Linked DNA regions of Homo sapiens. The protein of the gene in region 1 purifies or fractionates together with the protein of each later gene. This does not show direct contact. Each region holds a gene or a part of one and is shown in the gene's direction. Other genes may lie near its edges.

What was found.
Region 2: the proteins of ADI1 (region 1) and TRAPPC9 purify together in Homo sapiens (affinity purification with mass spectrometry; one large-scale study listed by BioGRID and IntAct). This does not show direct contact.
Region 3: the proteins of ADI1 (region 1) and PGK1 fractionate together in Homo sapiens (co-fractionation; one large-scale study listed by BioGRID). This does not show direct contact.
Region 4: the proteins of ADI1 (region 1) and TRAPPC10 purify together in Homo sapiens (affinity purification with mass spectrometry; one large-scale study listed by BioGRID and IntAct). This does not show direct contact.

The regions. Positions count from the first base shown.
Region 1 is NC_000002.12:3,512,806-3,516,888, reverse strand, and holds part of ADI1 (acireductone dioxygenase), read left to right. Parts: exon of another isoform or gene 1-1,979; coding exon of another isoform or gene 1,980-2,081; intron 2,082-2,912; coding exon 2,913-3,032; intron 3,033-4,083. UniProt on the Homo sapiens protein: Catalyzes 2 different reactions between oxygen and the acireductone 1,2-dihydroxy-3-keto-5-methylthiopentene (DHK-MTPene) depending upon the metal bound in the active site.
Region 2 is NC_000008.11:140,374,245-140,378,035, reverse strand, and holds part of TRAPPC9 (trafficking protein particle complex subunit 9), read left to right. Parts: intron 1-3,791. UniProt on the Homo sapiens protein: Functions as an activator of NF-kappa-B through increased phosphorylation of the IKK complex. May function in neuronal cells differentiation. May play a role in vesicular transport from endoplasmic reticulum to Golgi.
Region 3 is NC_000023.11:78,110,457-78,114,247, forward strand, and holds part of PGK1 (phosphoglycerate kinase 1), read left to right. Parts: intron 1-3,287; coding exon 3,288-3,443; intron 3,444-3,559; coding exon 3,560-3,704; intron 3,705-3,791. UniProt on the Homo sapiens protein: Catalyzes one of the two ATP producing reactions in the glycolytic pathway via the reversible conversion of 1,3-diphosphoglycerate to 3-phosphoglycerate.
Region 4 is NC_000021.9:44,102,518-44,106,308, forward strand, and holds part of TRAPPC10 (trafficking protein particle complex subunit 10), read left to right. Parts: intron 1-260; coding exon 261-455; intron 456-775; coding exon 776-1,014; 3' UTR 1,015-3,791. UniProt on the Homo sapiens protein: Specific subunit of the TRAPP (transport protein particle) II complex, a highly conserved vesicle tethering complex that functions in late Golgi trafficking as a membrane tether.

The DNA.
Region 1 (4,083 bases):
AACATTATATATATGTAACATCTCCCATAATTTTTAACAGAGGTAACACATGTGGACATGTTTGTGTATCTGTTTAATCAATCTGTTATTAGTGACATAGAGTTCTAAAAAACCTTTTGTCATACATACAAACAATTGGAAGATTATTTTAGCTTGGAATAAACTAAATACCTGCTGCTATAACAAAATGACAAAAATAGCTTAAACTGGGCAATTTATAAACAACAGCAATTTATAGAATTCTTATAGTTCTAGAGGCTAAGAAGTCCAAGATTAAGGTGCCAGCAGATTTAGTGTCTGATGAGGATCCTGTCCTCATAGACGGCCATTTCCTTGCTCTGTCCTCATGTGGTGGAAGGGGCAAACTGCTCTCTTACATCTCTCTTGCTCTTTTTTTTTTTTTTTTTTTTTTTTGAGATGGAGCCTCGCTCTGTCACCCAGGCTGGTAGCGCAGTCTTGGCTCACTGCAACCTCTGCCTCCTGGATTCAAGTGATTCTCCTGCCTCAGCCTCCCGAGTAGCTGGGATCACAGGCGTGGACCACCATGCCTGGCTAATTTTTGTATTTTTAGTAGAGATGGGGTTTCACCATGTTGGACAGGCTGGTCTTGAACCCCTGACCTCAGGTGATCTGCCCACCTTGGCCTCCCAAAGTTCTGGGATTATAGGTGTGAGCCACAGTGCCCAGCTCCATCTCTCTTACAAGGCCACTAATCCTATAAATGAGGGCTTGCCCTCATGACTTAATCACATCCTAAAGGTCCCACCCCTTAATACTATCACATTTGTGTTAAGTTTCAACATTCGTATATTTAAACTTATGACACGTGTCATATAATGTGTCATATTACATATTATGTGTCATAATATGGACACATTCAGACCATAGCAAATAGTACTGTGCATATCATGCAGTGGATAGGCTAAGTTTTAGAGTCAACTTTGTAGAAAATAACGTATTGATGACTAGTACTTTAATATGTTCTGGAGTATCGGGGGAACCCACCCCCAATATTTCAACATAGGTTCCATTTTCCATAAGTGTCGGCCAGCTGAGAAATAAAGAGAGACAGTATAAAGAGAGGAATTTTACAGCTGGGCCGCCAGGGGTGACATCACATATCGGTAGGACCGTGATGCCCGCCTGAGTCTCAGACCAGCAAGTTTTTATTAAGGGTTTCAAAAGGGGAGGGGGTGTAAGAACAGGGAGTAGGTACAAATATCACAGGCTTCAAAGGGCAAAAAGCAGAACTACTAATAAGGGTCTAACAAAGATCACATGCTTCTGAGGGAACAGGACAAAGGGCAAAAGCAGAACCACTGATAAGGGTCCAACAAAGATCACAGGGCAAAGGGCAAAAGCAGAACCACTGATAAAGATCTATGTTCAGTGCTGCACATATTGTCTTGATAAACATCTTAAATAACAGAAAACAGGGTTCGAGAGCAGAGAACTGGTCTGACCACAAATTTACCAGGGTGGAGTTTTTCCCCACCTTAGTAAGCCTGAGGGTACTGCAGAAGACCAGGGCGTATCTCAGTCCTTATCTCAACCGCATAAGACAGACATTCCCAGAGCAGCTGTTTATAGACCTCCCCCCAGAAATGCATTCCTTCCCCAGAGTATTAATATTAATATTCCTTCCTAGGAAAAGAATTTAGTGATACCTTCTCTACTTGCACGCCCATTTATAGGCTCTCTGCAAGAAGAAAAATATGGGTGTTTTTGCCTGACCCTGCAGGCAGTCAAACCTTATGGTTGTCTTCCCTTGTTCCCTAAAAATCGCTGTTATTTTATTTTTTAAGGTGTACTGATTTCATATTGTTCAAACACACATGTTTTACAATCAATTTGTACAGTTAACACAATTATCACAGTGGTCCTGAGGTGACATACATCCTCAGCTTACGAAGATAACAGGATTAAGAGATTAAAGACAGGCATAATAAATTATAAAAGTATTATTTGAGAACTGATAGATGTCCGTGAAATCTTCAAAACTTATGTTCCTCTGCCATGGCTCCAGCCGGTCCCTCCATTCGGGGTCCCTGACTTCCTGCAACACTGGAGTTTGTTGTTCAGTAAGTAGTGATGATATAATGTGCAGTTTATTGCAAAACATAAAGTGTGCTAGATTCACTGCCAGTAGTTTTAAATAAGAGTTCAGATGAATTCTGCCTGGAGCTTCATCAGGGAAGTGCTTCGTCAGGAAGGAACAGTAAAACTGAACCTTAATAGAGATAGGATTGTGATAAATGAAAATGTTGAATGGGAATTTTAGGCATAGAAAGCTGTCATGAGCAAGGTTGTGGGGATGTGAAATATCAAATATTTTTAAGATAGCCGATCATCCTATTTGGTTTAGAATGTAGAGTTCTTTAAAAAGTAGGAGATGGGAACAGATAGAAGTAGAAAAGTCAGCTGGGGCCAGATGATAGAAGGTTTCTCATTCCAGTTTAATTAACTTGAGTTTTATTTGCAAGCTGTGAGAGCATACAATGTTTTGGCTCATGGAAACAAACTGACCAAAGAGATGGCATTGAGGATCAATGAGACTCATGAGTGGGATGGTGGCAGAGAAACAGGGCACAGTGAGGGACCTGTGGAGTGGACAGAAAGGCCTGAGGTGGTGAGACTACCATCTCAAAATGGGAAAAAGAATCCCCTGGGATGGACTGTTGCAGAGAAGGGAGGCAGAAATCAAACAGAACTCCATTGTATGTATAGCTGGTGTTTTGGAGAATGGAAAATCCATTAAATGGCTAGAGGAGATGAAGAGAGTTAGTTGAGGGTTGAAAAAATAACAAATGATAAATTTGGAGTATAAAATCATATTGGAGATCCAGAAAGAGAATGTTTCTACATCTCCTTGTTAATCTGAGCTCTTGTTTTTGGTGGGTTAACTCTTTTAGCTGGATGCTGACAAATATGAGAATGATCCAGAATTAGAAAAGATCCGAAGAGAGAGGAACTACTCCTGGATGGACATCATAACCATATGCAAAGATAAACTACCAAATTATGAAGAAAAGGTAAGGGAGCCCTGGATTACCTGGAAAAGAAGTATCATTATATTCACTACTAATAGACGCAATATTTTCTTTCTTTTTTCTTTTAATGTCTGTATGAGGCCATTCTTGCTTTGCTATAAATAAATACCTGAAACTGTGTAATTTATAAGAAAAGAGATTTAATTGGCCCACAGTTCTGCAGGCTCTACAGGAAGCATGTGCTTCCTGTCACCACCATCTGCTTCTGGGGAGGCCTCAGGAAGCTTACATGGCAGAAGGCAAAGAGGGAGCAGGCTTCTCACATAACAGGAGTGGGAATGAAAGAGAGAGCAAGGTGCCACACTGTTTTAAATGACCAGATCTCACAAGAAGTTACTCACTGTAGTGAGGATAGCACCAAGAAGATAGTGCTAAGCTATTCATGAGAAATCCACCCTCATGATCCAGTCACCTCCCACCAGGTCCCACTTTCAATACTGGGGATTACATTTCAATATGAAATTTGGGTGGAGACACAAATCTAAACTGTATTATTCTGCCCCGGCCCCTCCCAAATCTCATGCCCTTCTTGAATTTCAAAATACAATAATCTCTTCCCAATAGTCCCCCAAAGTCTTAACTTCCTCTAGCATTAACTTAAAAGTCCCAAGTTCAAGTCCAAAGTCTCATCTGATACTCATCTCCTTTTACCTATGAGCCTGCAAAATCAAAACAAGTTAGTTACTCCCAAGATACAAAGCGGGTAAAGGCATTAGGTAAATATTCTCATTCCAAAAGGGGGAAATTGGTCAAAAGAAAGGAGCTACAGGACCCATGAAAGTTCAAAACTCAGCAGGGCAGCCACTAAATCTTAAAGCTCCAAAATAATACCCTTTGACTCCATGTCCCACATCTAGGGCACACTGGTGCAAGGAATGGGCTCCCAAGGCCTTAGGCAGCTCTGTCCCTGTGGCTTTGCAGGGGCTCCTGAGGTTGCTCTCATGGGATGGCTTTGAGTGCCTATAGCTTTTGCAGGTGCAGGGTGCAAGCTGCCAGTGAATCTATCATTCTTGGGTCTGCAGGATGGTGGTTC
Region 2 (3,791 bases), on another chromosome or scaffold:
GATGTTAGACCCCAAATACACTGCCTTTGCCTCTCTCCCAAGGTCTCATTTAAGTATCCCAAAGTATTTTTTTTTTTTGAGACAGTCTTGCTCTGTCACTCATGCTGGAGTGCAGTGGCGTGATCGTGGCTCACTGCAACCTCTGCCCCCCGGGTTCAAGCGATTCACCTGCCTCAGCTTCCCAAGTAGCTGGGATTACAGGTGTGCACCACCGTGTCCATCTAATCTGACAACACATCATTAGTGTTTTGTAGTGTAGTGCGGAAGGCATTAGTCTATTTCGGACAGGCAGGAGAGGAGTTTAGGAAAGGAGTGATGGGGGGTGGGGGACGTTTTAGCTGTGTATGGTCTTGTTTAATTGGCTTTTAATTTCAGGCTGCATGAGTTGTCATTGGAGGGACTAGATTTTATGGAGAACAGACTTAAAGAAACTCAGAACTTGGCTGGGTGCAGTGGCTCATGCCTGTAATCCCAGCACTTTGGGAGGCTGAGGCGGATCACCTGAGGTCAGGAGTTTGAGACCAGCTTGGCCAACATGACGAAACCCTGTCTCTACTAAAAATACAAAAAGTAGCCGGGTGTGGCGTCGGGCACCTGTAATCACAGCTCCTGAGGAGGCTGAGGCGGGAGAATTGTTTGAACCTGGGAGGCAGAGGTTGCAGTAAGCCGAGATTACGCCACTGCGCTCCAGCCTGGGCCACAAGGGTGAAATTCTGTCTCAAAAAAAGAGAAGAAAAAAAAAAGAAACTGAGAACTCTGGTATGGAAAGATGAATGTGGAGAAAAGCTGTAGTCAGAGTTCAAATCATCTTTAAAGTACACATGAACTCGCTTGCTCACTAAACCCAAAGATGGTAAAATAGGCAGTATTTCTTGAAGCCAAAGGAGTGGGTTTTTCAGGTTATCCAAGAATGAATCAAAGGCTGGAACTGAGGTGATCAGGGGTCAAGCGCGGACTTTGCTTGGCCATCTCTTTTGGATGGTGCACTCAACAAGGGCACTGACTGTTTACAAAGTGTCCTTCCTCTAGCATGTGGTGGGTATACCTGGTAGTCTAGGAACCTTCCAGGTATCTGTCCAAGGCATAGGGCACAGCATCCCTGTTTCAGCCATCTCTCCATCCATCTTCTTCCCAACACTGTGATTTTTTTTTTTTTTTTTTTGAGATGGAGCCTCGCTCTTGTTGTGCTGAAGTGCAGTGGCGCGATCTCGGTTCACTGCTAACTTCCACCTCCCAGGTTCAAGTGATTCTCCTGCCTCAGCCTCCTGAGTAGCTGGGACTATAGGCACCCACCATCACGCCCGGCTAATTTTTATATTTTTAGTTGAGATGGGGTTTCACTATGTTGGCCAGGCTGGTCTCGAACTCCTGACCTCAGGTAATCTGCCTGCCTTAGCCTCCCAAAGTGCTGAGATTATCGGCATGAGCCACGTTGCCTGGCCTCAACACTGTGATTCTTTTTTTTTTTTTTTTTTTTTTTTTAGATGGAGTCTTGCTCTGTGCCCAGGCTAGAGTGCAGTGGCGCAATCCCGGCTCACTGCAAGTTCCGTCTCCCAAGTTCACGCCATTCTCCTGCCTCAGCCTCCCAAGTAGCTGGGACTACAGGTGCCTGCCACCACGCCTGGCTAATTTTTTGTATTTTTAGTAGAGACGGGGTTTCACTGTGTTGGCCAGGATGATCCTGATCTCCTGACCTTGTGATCTGCCCACCTCATCCTCCCAAAGTGCTAGGATTACAGGCGTGAGCCACCGCGCCCGGCCTCCAACACTGTGATTCTTTATGGACCTATCTCCTCTACTACTTCATGAAGTTTTGAGGGACCAGGTCTTATTGAAGTTTTTGTTTTGTTTTGCTTTGTTTTCATTCTTACTTTTGAATGATTAAAACTGAAAATGGATCCAATTACTTTAGACAGATGCTTTATAAAGGAAAATCCTTGGTGCATGCCTCATACCCCTACTCCGGGATATGAGAAAGTAGGTTATGTTTTTAACAAACTTTTTTGATAGACATATATGGAAAGTTTGTATAATTTTGAAGATGTATTTTCTCTCCATGTAATTATGGCTGGAAATAGCCGGAGAGAGGAGCAGAGTGTGTTTTCAAACCTGGGAATGTGTGGGGCCTGCTGTTTCCCATCCGGCATTCTCCCACGGTCATCATTTAGTTGAGTGCGGCCACCAGGCTGCCCCTACACATCTGTCACTGACTTGTTCTTCTGATCACTGCAAGTGCCCACGTTTGAGAAGGCTGATGAGGGTTAAGGCATTTTCTAGAGCATCAGTGGCTGGTTAACTTGGGGTTAGAACTTGTGGTGTCAAAGGCATTAACTAACAGTGATATTTCTGTTTCTTGAACACTCACTGAGAGTTTTAGGCTTATGCTCAGTGTTTGCATTATTTCATTGAGTCTTTTTGACAATCGTAATTAGATTTGATGATCCCTGTTTCTTAGGGATATGCAGATGTGGCCCTGGAACTCAGGACTTTACAGCTCCAGGCTGTATTCCTCCCTCTCCATCCTGCCAGAGACAAGTCCTGTGTCTGGAGTTTCCCTCTGATCTTGTCACTTTATTTCTTATTAACAGAATAAAGCAGGTCTAAACTTACTTTCTACTTGGAAATGGAATGGTGAGTTAATATTTGGATCCCTCAGAGTCTGCCTTGTGAATAAAGCTCCTTGTCTTGAGTAGTCTTGGAGCCACTTTCGTTGGAACCTCACATAAACATCTGGGCCCTGAACTTGGACTTCGTGACTGTGCAGCCTATTGAAAGATTAGAACAAAGATGTGCTGATTAATATGCCCTAAAAGAGCAGCAGGTTGGAAATGAGTTTGGGGATTTCATCTCATTTCAAGATTTCCTGAGGATCTTGGCCTAGCTTTGCCAGGGACCATTTTGTACTCCCCGGCTCCTTGTGCCATAGGTGCCTGTGTCGACCAAACATGGCTTTGTCCTGAGGCTCTCTGGGCTCATGGCTTCTCAGTCAATTGTCTGCCTAGTGCCCAAAAGCAGTTGCGCTCGAGCTTTTCCCATTAAGGAACCGTTTTAGGGCTTTAAAGTGATGTCAATTCCATTTGCAATGTAGTATTTATCATTTGACTTCTTATTACACTGAAATGATAAGAGGAATGAAGTAATATTATTACTGATCATAGTATTATTTACAACCTTTCATCTTAGATAGGTTCCATGAAAGAATCAATGGGAGTTCTAACGCATTGGTGGCCAAGGCATGTGACCTTCCCCGGCTGTCACCTTTATTTTAGATGGTGACCTCTTTACAGGCACTGGCTAAGATCAGTATTCGTCTTCTCTGCCCCCTTCTCTGCCCCAACATCTTTGATCATGTCTGGCACATAGTGGGTGCAGCTGAAGGTCTGGGCATTTCCAGATTTGTGATGAAGGCGTTAAGTACCCCCACCTCTTCTTTTTCTTTTTTTCTTTTCTTTTCTTTTTTTTTTTGACATGGAGTTTCACTCTTGTTGCCCAGGCTGGAGTGTAATGGCACAATCTTGGCTCACTGCAACCTCCGCCTCCTGGGTTCAAGCAATTCTTCTGCTTCAGCCTCTCAAGTAGCTGGGATTACAGGTATGCACCACCACGCCTGGCTAATTTTGTATTTTTTAGTAGAGACGGGGTTTCTCCATGTTGGTCAGGCTGGTCTCGAACTCCCAACCTCAGGTGATCTGCCTGCCTCGGCCTCCCAAAGTGCTGGGATTACAGGTGTGCGCCACTGCGCCCGGCCAACCCCTGCCTCCTCTTTACAGTCCTCTTCCACCCCGTCCCTG
Region 3 (3,791 bases), on another chromosome or scaffold:
GCAGAGTTATTCATTTTTAAAGAATATAAAAGTTGGCTGGGTGCGGTGGCTCACATCTGTAATCCCAGCACTTTGGAAGGCCGAGGCAGGAGGATTGCTTGAGGCCAGTAGTTCGAGAACAGCCTGGCCAATATAGTAAGACACCATCTCTATAAAACACACACAAAAAATATAAAAATTTAAGGTTACTTGGCTTCTCTTGCAAAATGAAGAACTATGTAAGAGAAGGATTTTAAAAGTACCAGTAGTTACTAAGGTTATATGTAGTTTTACAAGCCCCCATTCAAATGGCTCAGATAAGTCAATTTTTGAGAATTTTCATTTGTTTTTGCTTCCAAAAAAACAAACAGGAAAGACTTCAGAAGTACGTTTTCAGTCAGTTTAGCTGCTCCAGTGTCTTGGATCCTAGATTCAGAAACAAATTTTAAGTGAGAGTACTGCTCTTGCTTTTGACTAGATTATAAAAGGTCTTTATTTTTGTCTTTACTTTCTTTTTAATTTTTTTAATTTTTAATTTTTGTAGATTTTATATATATATATATATGGGTTACATGAGATATTTTGATAAAAGCATGCAATACATAATCACATCAGGTTAAATGGGGTATCCATCAAGAAGGTTTTTATTTAATTTTTTTTTTTTTTTGAGACAGGGCCTCGTTCTGTCGCCCAGGCTGGAGTGCAGTGGCACGATCTTGGCTCACTGCAATCTCTGCCTCCTGGGCTCAAGCGATCCTCCCATCTCAGCCTCCCAGGGAGCTGAGACCACAGGCGTGGGCCACCACACCTGGCTACTTTTTCATATTTTTTTTGTAGAGACAGCGTTTTGCCCTTTTGCCCAAGCTGGCCTTGAGCTCCTGGACCCCGCCCACCTTGGCCTCCCAAAGTGCTGGGAATACAGGCATGAGTCACTGTGCTCCGCCTATTTTAAATTTTAAATGAAGGGTTTGTGTTGGCAAGGTGCTTTCTAATGATCTAGACCAGTGGTATCTAATAGAAATACAATGTGAGCCAAATTGTGTTAATTAAATTAAAGGGACATTTAACTTTTTTGGTACTAAGTCTTCAAGATCTGGCATGTGTTTTTATACTACAGCACATCTCAATTTGATCTAGTTATATATCTGGTACTCAACAGACACACATGACTAAATGACTGTCGTAATGGACAGTGCAGGTCTAGCCCAGAACATTTTCAGGTATTGGTCCTAGAATAGAGCCTGTCATTTTGCCAAGCACATCCCTGCTGTACCATAGTGGCAGGGTCTTTGTATAAGGCAGATCTGATCCCGCTTGATCTTCATTATTGTGCAACACACAGAAACGATTGGAAATATGCCTATCAAGTTATTTTAAGAGTAAAGAAACATGTTTGGAAATCTTTTCATTTCCGGAAATCCATGGAGTTGATTAACAAAATGAAGCATTAGAAATAATAAAACTTGCTGATAAGGGATAGTCCTGAAAACTAATTGGTTCCATTGCACAAACTTTGTACCTGATACAGATTTTTAAATTTGATATAAAGGAGTTCTTATATCTGCTAAATATTAATAACATAAGATATTTTAAAAGTATAACTTTTTTAATCATTCCATTCTTTGCTCAGATGTCATCATATCAGACTTTCCCTGGCCATCCTGTCTAAAAATCTCCTCTACCATTGTTCCCCGGTCATTTTTGTCCTCAAAAGTAGGGGAACAAAAATGGGGAACAATGGTTTGTTTTTTTTCTGTATCTCACCATCTGATATATTACATGTACGCACACACACATACATGTTTATTGTCTCTCTCCATTAGAATTTCACTTCCATGAGAACAGAGAGTTTTTAAAAAAGTTTTCTGTTTCATTCTCAGAACCTGGAATGATGCCTGGCACAAAAGAAGCATTCAATAAATATTTGATGAATAAATAAATGCTTTTCTTGATCAATTTTAATTTCTTATAAACTGGCAAAATGGCAAGTTAGTAGCAGGTTTATAACAAAACTTTTAAATGTTTAAAGGGAGTTAATTTTTTGATTAATTTATAATGTAATGAATGTGATACATTATGGAAACCAAGCTCTAGACAGTGCAATTATTTTTTCCTACATAAAAAAGTGACTTAGGATCTATTAATAGGTGCAGAAAAGTTACTACATGTTTTTTATTTTTCCCCAAATTTCCTTTGATGGTTTCAAGATTTGAGAATTTTATGTATTTTCCATAGTCATATAAGAAGTGTTTTCAGGGGTCCCCAAGATCACCCACATATCTCATGATGATTTGCTAGGACTCAGAGTTGTTCTCATGGCTAAAGTTTATTACAGTGAAAGAATGCATGACAAGATTAGGAAGAGGAAAAGACATGGGGGAGTCTAGAGAAATCCATGGGCTTCCAGTTTCCTGTGAGGGGACACATCAAGTGTTTTCCTTTCTTCAGCAGTGAAAAATGCAGTAATTGTCTGCAGTGTTTCTGCCTGGAGAAGCATGCTAGAGACTCAGATCCCAAGATTTTTGTTGGGAACTGGTAACATAGGGATCCTCTGCCTAGCAACTACCAAAATTACAAACTTCTGCTGGGTGTGGTGGCTCACGCCTGTATTCCCAGCAGTTTGGGAGGCTGAGGCCTGCAGATAACTTGAGCCCAGGAGTTCAAGACCAGCCTGGACAACATGGTAAAACCCCTACAAAAAATACAAAAATTAGCTGGGCATGGTGGTGCATTCCTGTAGTTCCAGCTACTTGGGAGGCTGAGGTAGGAAGATGACCTAAGCCCCTGGGGAGGTTGAAGCTGCAGTGAGCTGAGATTGTGCCTCTCCACTCCAGCCTGTTGGGTGACAGAGTGAGACCCTGTCTCAACAAAAAAAGGAAAAGAAAAAAAAAATTCTAGACTTCTAGAGTGGGGCAGGTGTTCAGCATAAATCACCATGTTTGTATAGACGGTCTAGGAAGAGTGAATAGCCCTTGTTGGTCTTGTCAGTTAACTTTGAAAGCCAAGTTCCCAGATACCAGCCAGGATCTAATCTTGCAGACAGGTCCTTCTGTAGATAGTAGCCTCAGGCCTGCTGTGTTAACTCTTGTCTGTGAAAGGGGCAGATACATAATGAGATTGTACAATCCTAGGTGGAGGGTTGGCATTGCATTTAACTTCTTAAGGACCACCATTGAATTACTGATAGTAGATTTGAAGGAACTTGGAGAAGAAAAGGAGCTTTATGCTTTATGAGGTTATCAATAAGCTAGTTCCCACTAATTTCTAGGAGTAACTTCATTCTGTTTGTTGTCTCTCTTTGGTTGCAGGATTAAGGCTGCTGTCCCAAGCATCAAATTCTGCTTGGACAATGGAGCCAAGTCGGTAGTCCTTATGAGCCACCTAGGCCGGCCTGATGGTGTGCCCATGCCTGACAAGTACTCCTTAGAGCCAGTTGCTGTAGAACTCAAATCTCTGCTGGGCAAGTAAGTGCCAGGCTCTGGTGCTGGTAGACTTTGTGGCGGGGGAAGTTGTCAAGCACGTTGTTACTGGTTTTTAACTTTCATACTGCTCAAGTGTCTTCATCTCTTCCTCTTCTCAGGGATGTTCTGTTCTTGAAGGACTGTGTAGGCCCAGAAGTGGAGAAAGCCTGTGCCAACCCAGCTGCTGGGTCTGTCATCCTGCTGGAGAACCTCCGCTTTCATGTGGAGGAAGAAGGGAAGGGAAAAGATGCTTCTGGGAACAAGGTAGGACCTGTGATTTTGACATTATTGGGGGTGAGGGCCTGAGTCTGTAAGAGACTGTGGTTGAAGAATAGAGAAAGCTCATTTATT
Region 4 (3,791 bases), on another chromosome or scaffold:
GAAAAATGCAGTTTTCTGTACACGTCCAGCATAATTCATTCTAATCCAGAACTAATTGAAATTGGACTCAATGAAATAGGGGTTGCCACCGTGAAAGTGCATGGCTTTATCTTCAGGCGCAGCTACAAGGCACTGGGCTCTGTGTCCGCAGTGTTTTGTCAGACAGCGTTGGGTGAGAGGATTGGGTAACGACGGCCGTGACTCTCGCCTGAGTACTGGAAGGCCCGTCCTGGATGACACATCGCTTCCTCTCGTTTCAGTTGTCGACAACAGTAGCAACTGGGCAGTGTGTGGGAAAAGCTGCGGTGTCATCTCCATGCCAGTGGCTGCTCGGGCCACTCACAGGGTCCACATGGAAGTGATGCCGCTCTTCGCCGGGTATCTCCCCCTGCCCGACGTCAGGCTGTTCAAGTACCTCCCCCATCATTCTGCACACTCCTCCCAACTGGACGCTGGTAAGGACTTTGGAAGAAAAAGTTTACCTTCAGTATTTGAGCAGGTGAGCACTTTGTGCGAGAGGTGATAAACTTATGACTGAGCAGGTTGGAGAACTAGCGGCGTGTTTTCAGTGCCGGTAGAAACTGGTACTAGAAGCCTCATCCGCTGTTAGAATCTTAGGCACCTGCTCTGAAAGCCAAGCCTCTGTGCACAGAGTGCTCTGTAAAGGGGCAGCCTCGGGTGGCATTCTGCACGTTCAGCCTGGCTCCGTGTGGCTTTGCCCGTCCCCAGGTGAGTGTCGGCGCAGCTTGGGTCTAACTTCCTGTGTGTTTTGCAGACAGCTGGATAGAAAACGACAGCCTGTCAGTAGACAAGCACGGGGACGACCAGCCGGACAGCAGCAGCCTCAAGAGCAGGGGCAGCGTGCATTCGGCCTGCAGCAGCGAGCACAAAGGCCTACCCATGCCCCGGCTGCAGGCACTGCCGGCCGGCCAGGTCTTCAACTCCAGCTCGGGCACACAAGTCCTGGTCATCCCCAGCCAAGATGACCACGTCCTGGAAGTCAGTGTAACATGACAACGCCAGGGTGAACACACGCCACTTCCCAGCTAGGAGTGCACTTTATGGGACTGTGACTGGACTCTTCCGTTCTGGCTCCAGCCAGACCTTCAGTGGTCCTGCCTGGCCGTGGGGACATCAGAGAGTGTCATCACGCAGCTGGCCAGCTGAGTTCTGTTGTTGTTTTCATGCCGCCTGTGATCTCAGATTCCTGCTTTTCTCACCCCGTCCCCATGCTGGTGTCCGACGCCGCTTACTCAGAGCCCTGGCCTCCCTCCCCCTACCTCACACGCTGCTCATGAAAGTTTCCACCCACGCTGTCTCCACGGAACAGCCTCCGTCTGCTGGCTCTTCGTGGAAGGCCATTTGTCTTTCAGGTAGACACTCAGCAGCCCTCACGGTCTTAGTGACGTGTGTGCCTTTCTGGTCACACAGCTGCCCAGTTTCCTGATCGGGGTGGATTTGTGTCCCCTAAGGGGTAAAACAGCCGTTTACCGCAGATCCTCTCATTGTGCTTTTCTAGAATAACACCCTTCTAGGGGAGGCGGGTGGGGGAGGGAGGGATCATAACCCCTTCTGTGCCTTGGGATGCCGGAGCTGGGGGACCTGGAGGCCCATCAGCCGGAGCCACGTGAAAGGTACTGAAGAAAGCTGAGACCCGGCTGTGAGGAGCGCCTCAGCGGTGAGGTGGTTTAGGGATAAATGTTTCTGGAACCCTGTGGTCCCCCATAATGTTGATAGAATATCATATGCACTGGGAGTTAAATATATTTAATTTAATGATCATTATATATGTGGGGGTTAATATGTTGTTTTTCTGTCCCTTTAAAGTCTTTACATGTAATTGTAGCTGTATAATCGTTATTTTTCTTTTGCATCTTAAGTCTTAGAAATTAAGATATTCCATCGTGAGGATGAGAGAGGTCCTCAGTGTGTTTTTGGTCTGGTTGTAGGGAAGGACTCAAGTCCTGGAATGTCCTCCACTGGTCTACTGAGTTGCAGTCACACTGTTCCAATGGATTATTTGCTTTCGGTTGTAAATTTAATTGTACATATGGTTGATTTATTATTTTTAAAAATACAGACTAACTGATGTAATGTTTATGTATAAGTTGCACCAAAAATCAAGGACAAAAATAAGTGTGTTTGTTTTTACAGGTGTGAAAGTCACAGCTTGTAAATAAGTGTTGTATGTATTAAACCTTTTCCAGTTCTCCAAAGCGATGTATTTTTGTACACTTGAAATAGAGTACTCTTAATTTACTGGGCAAATGTGCTTGGAATTGAACTTGACAAGATTAGCTCAAGCAGATAGAGTCGGGTCCAGCAGTGGGTGGCCCTCGTGTGAATCCCCGTGGATGTGCAAGTTGTGGAGAGAAGGAGCACCGGGTTCCTGCCCAGCACTGTGCTTGCGGGAGGCGGTGGGGCATGGGAGGAAGGAGGCACAGACCGGGGAAATATGACAGCCGTCATTTCCAGTATTCTCTGTGTTGTCTTTTAGCTCATTCAATAAATAAAGGTGGTGTGATTTTTTTTTCCTCCTGTCTTTTTCATTTGTAGAAACTGGAGACGTGTAAAGAAGATAAATAATTGTGTAATTAAACTTTCCAGAAATTTATCTTCCTCATGTGCAGTTTAACAAACTTGGTCAAACTAGTTAGCAAATTAGAACTTCAGAATCTAATGATAGTTTAGGGTTTCTAAAATAAGGTTTTTTATTGTAAAAATTGACGATTGCCCTGCATTTCTACCAAGTCCTGTGAATAAAGAGATGGGAGATTTGATTCCGTCAGAAGAGACTGTAATCCGTGTCGTCAGCCTGGGAGCCTTCCCCAGTGTAATGTAGCTTTCTCTCTTACCTTCTGGAAGAGGGAATGTTTCATTTATTACTGTTTGATTTTCTTGTATCTGGTTCTACTCCCAGGATGAAATTATCCAACTACATATATATTTAGAGGAAGAAAGTGAAGGGGAAATTTAAAATGTTTACGGCGCTTAATTGCCTGGAAATGAAATGAAATCAAATTTATCAGTTTTTTTCCCCCTAATTACCCAAAAGATCTTTTGCAAACTATGTTACATGAATGCTTCTGCCTCTTTAAGACAAAGAAGAATGTCACCCAAAATTGTCATTTTTTTCTTAATGTTCATCATAAAAGTCCTAAAAGAGTAACTGTAATTGGATGTTTATTGTTTTTATCTAAAGTAAGGTGTATGTGTTTGAGACAAGCTGGTTTTGTTGATAAAGAGATGTTAAATAATTGTGAAGCCAGATATGCAATGTGTATCTGAAAAGCAAGGAATTTGCAGCCGTTTTACAAATATCTGTGGAACATGTAAATACTGTCAAATGGAAAATAAAATAAGTTATAATTTTTGTGAATTTCATGGGATGTCCTATGATTGGAAAAATTATAACTCTTCTGATTCTAATGTGGAAATTGTTGTATTTAATCTGAAAATGACTTTACCTACAACAGTTCCATTGTCAGCACAGCCTAGGAAGGTCAGATCCTGTATTAATTACTCTTAGTGGAGATGCCAGATATCCCATACAGAATTAGCAGAGAAAATACACACAGGCTTCTATTCAAATTTTCTTTAGTGCTTAAAATTAAGTTTTAAAATGAAATCAGACACTGCAGGTTTGTATATAAAATGAAAAGCTATACTACTTTTTACAAAAGGGCAAACTGGGCTGATGTAAATGTTTTACTTTCAACTGTGTTCTTTAAAATAAATCCTACCTGGTTTTTAAATTTTATTTTTCATGAAAATGCTCCTTTCTCTACATT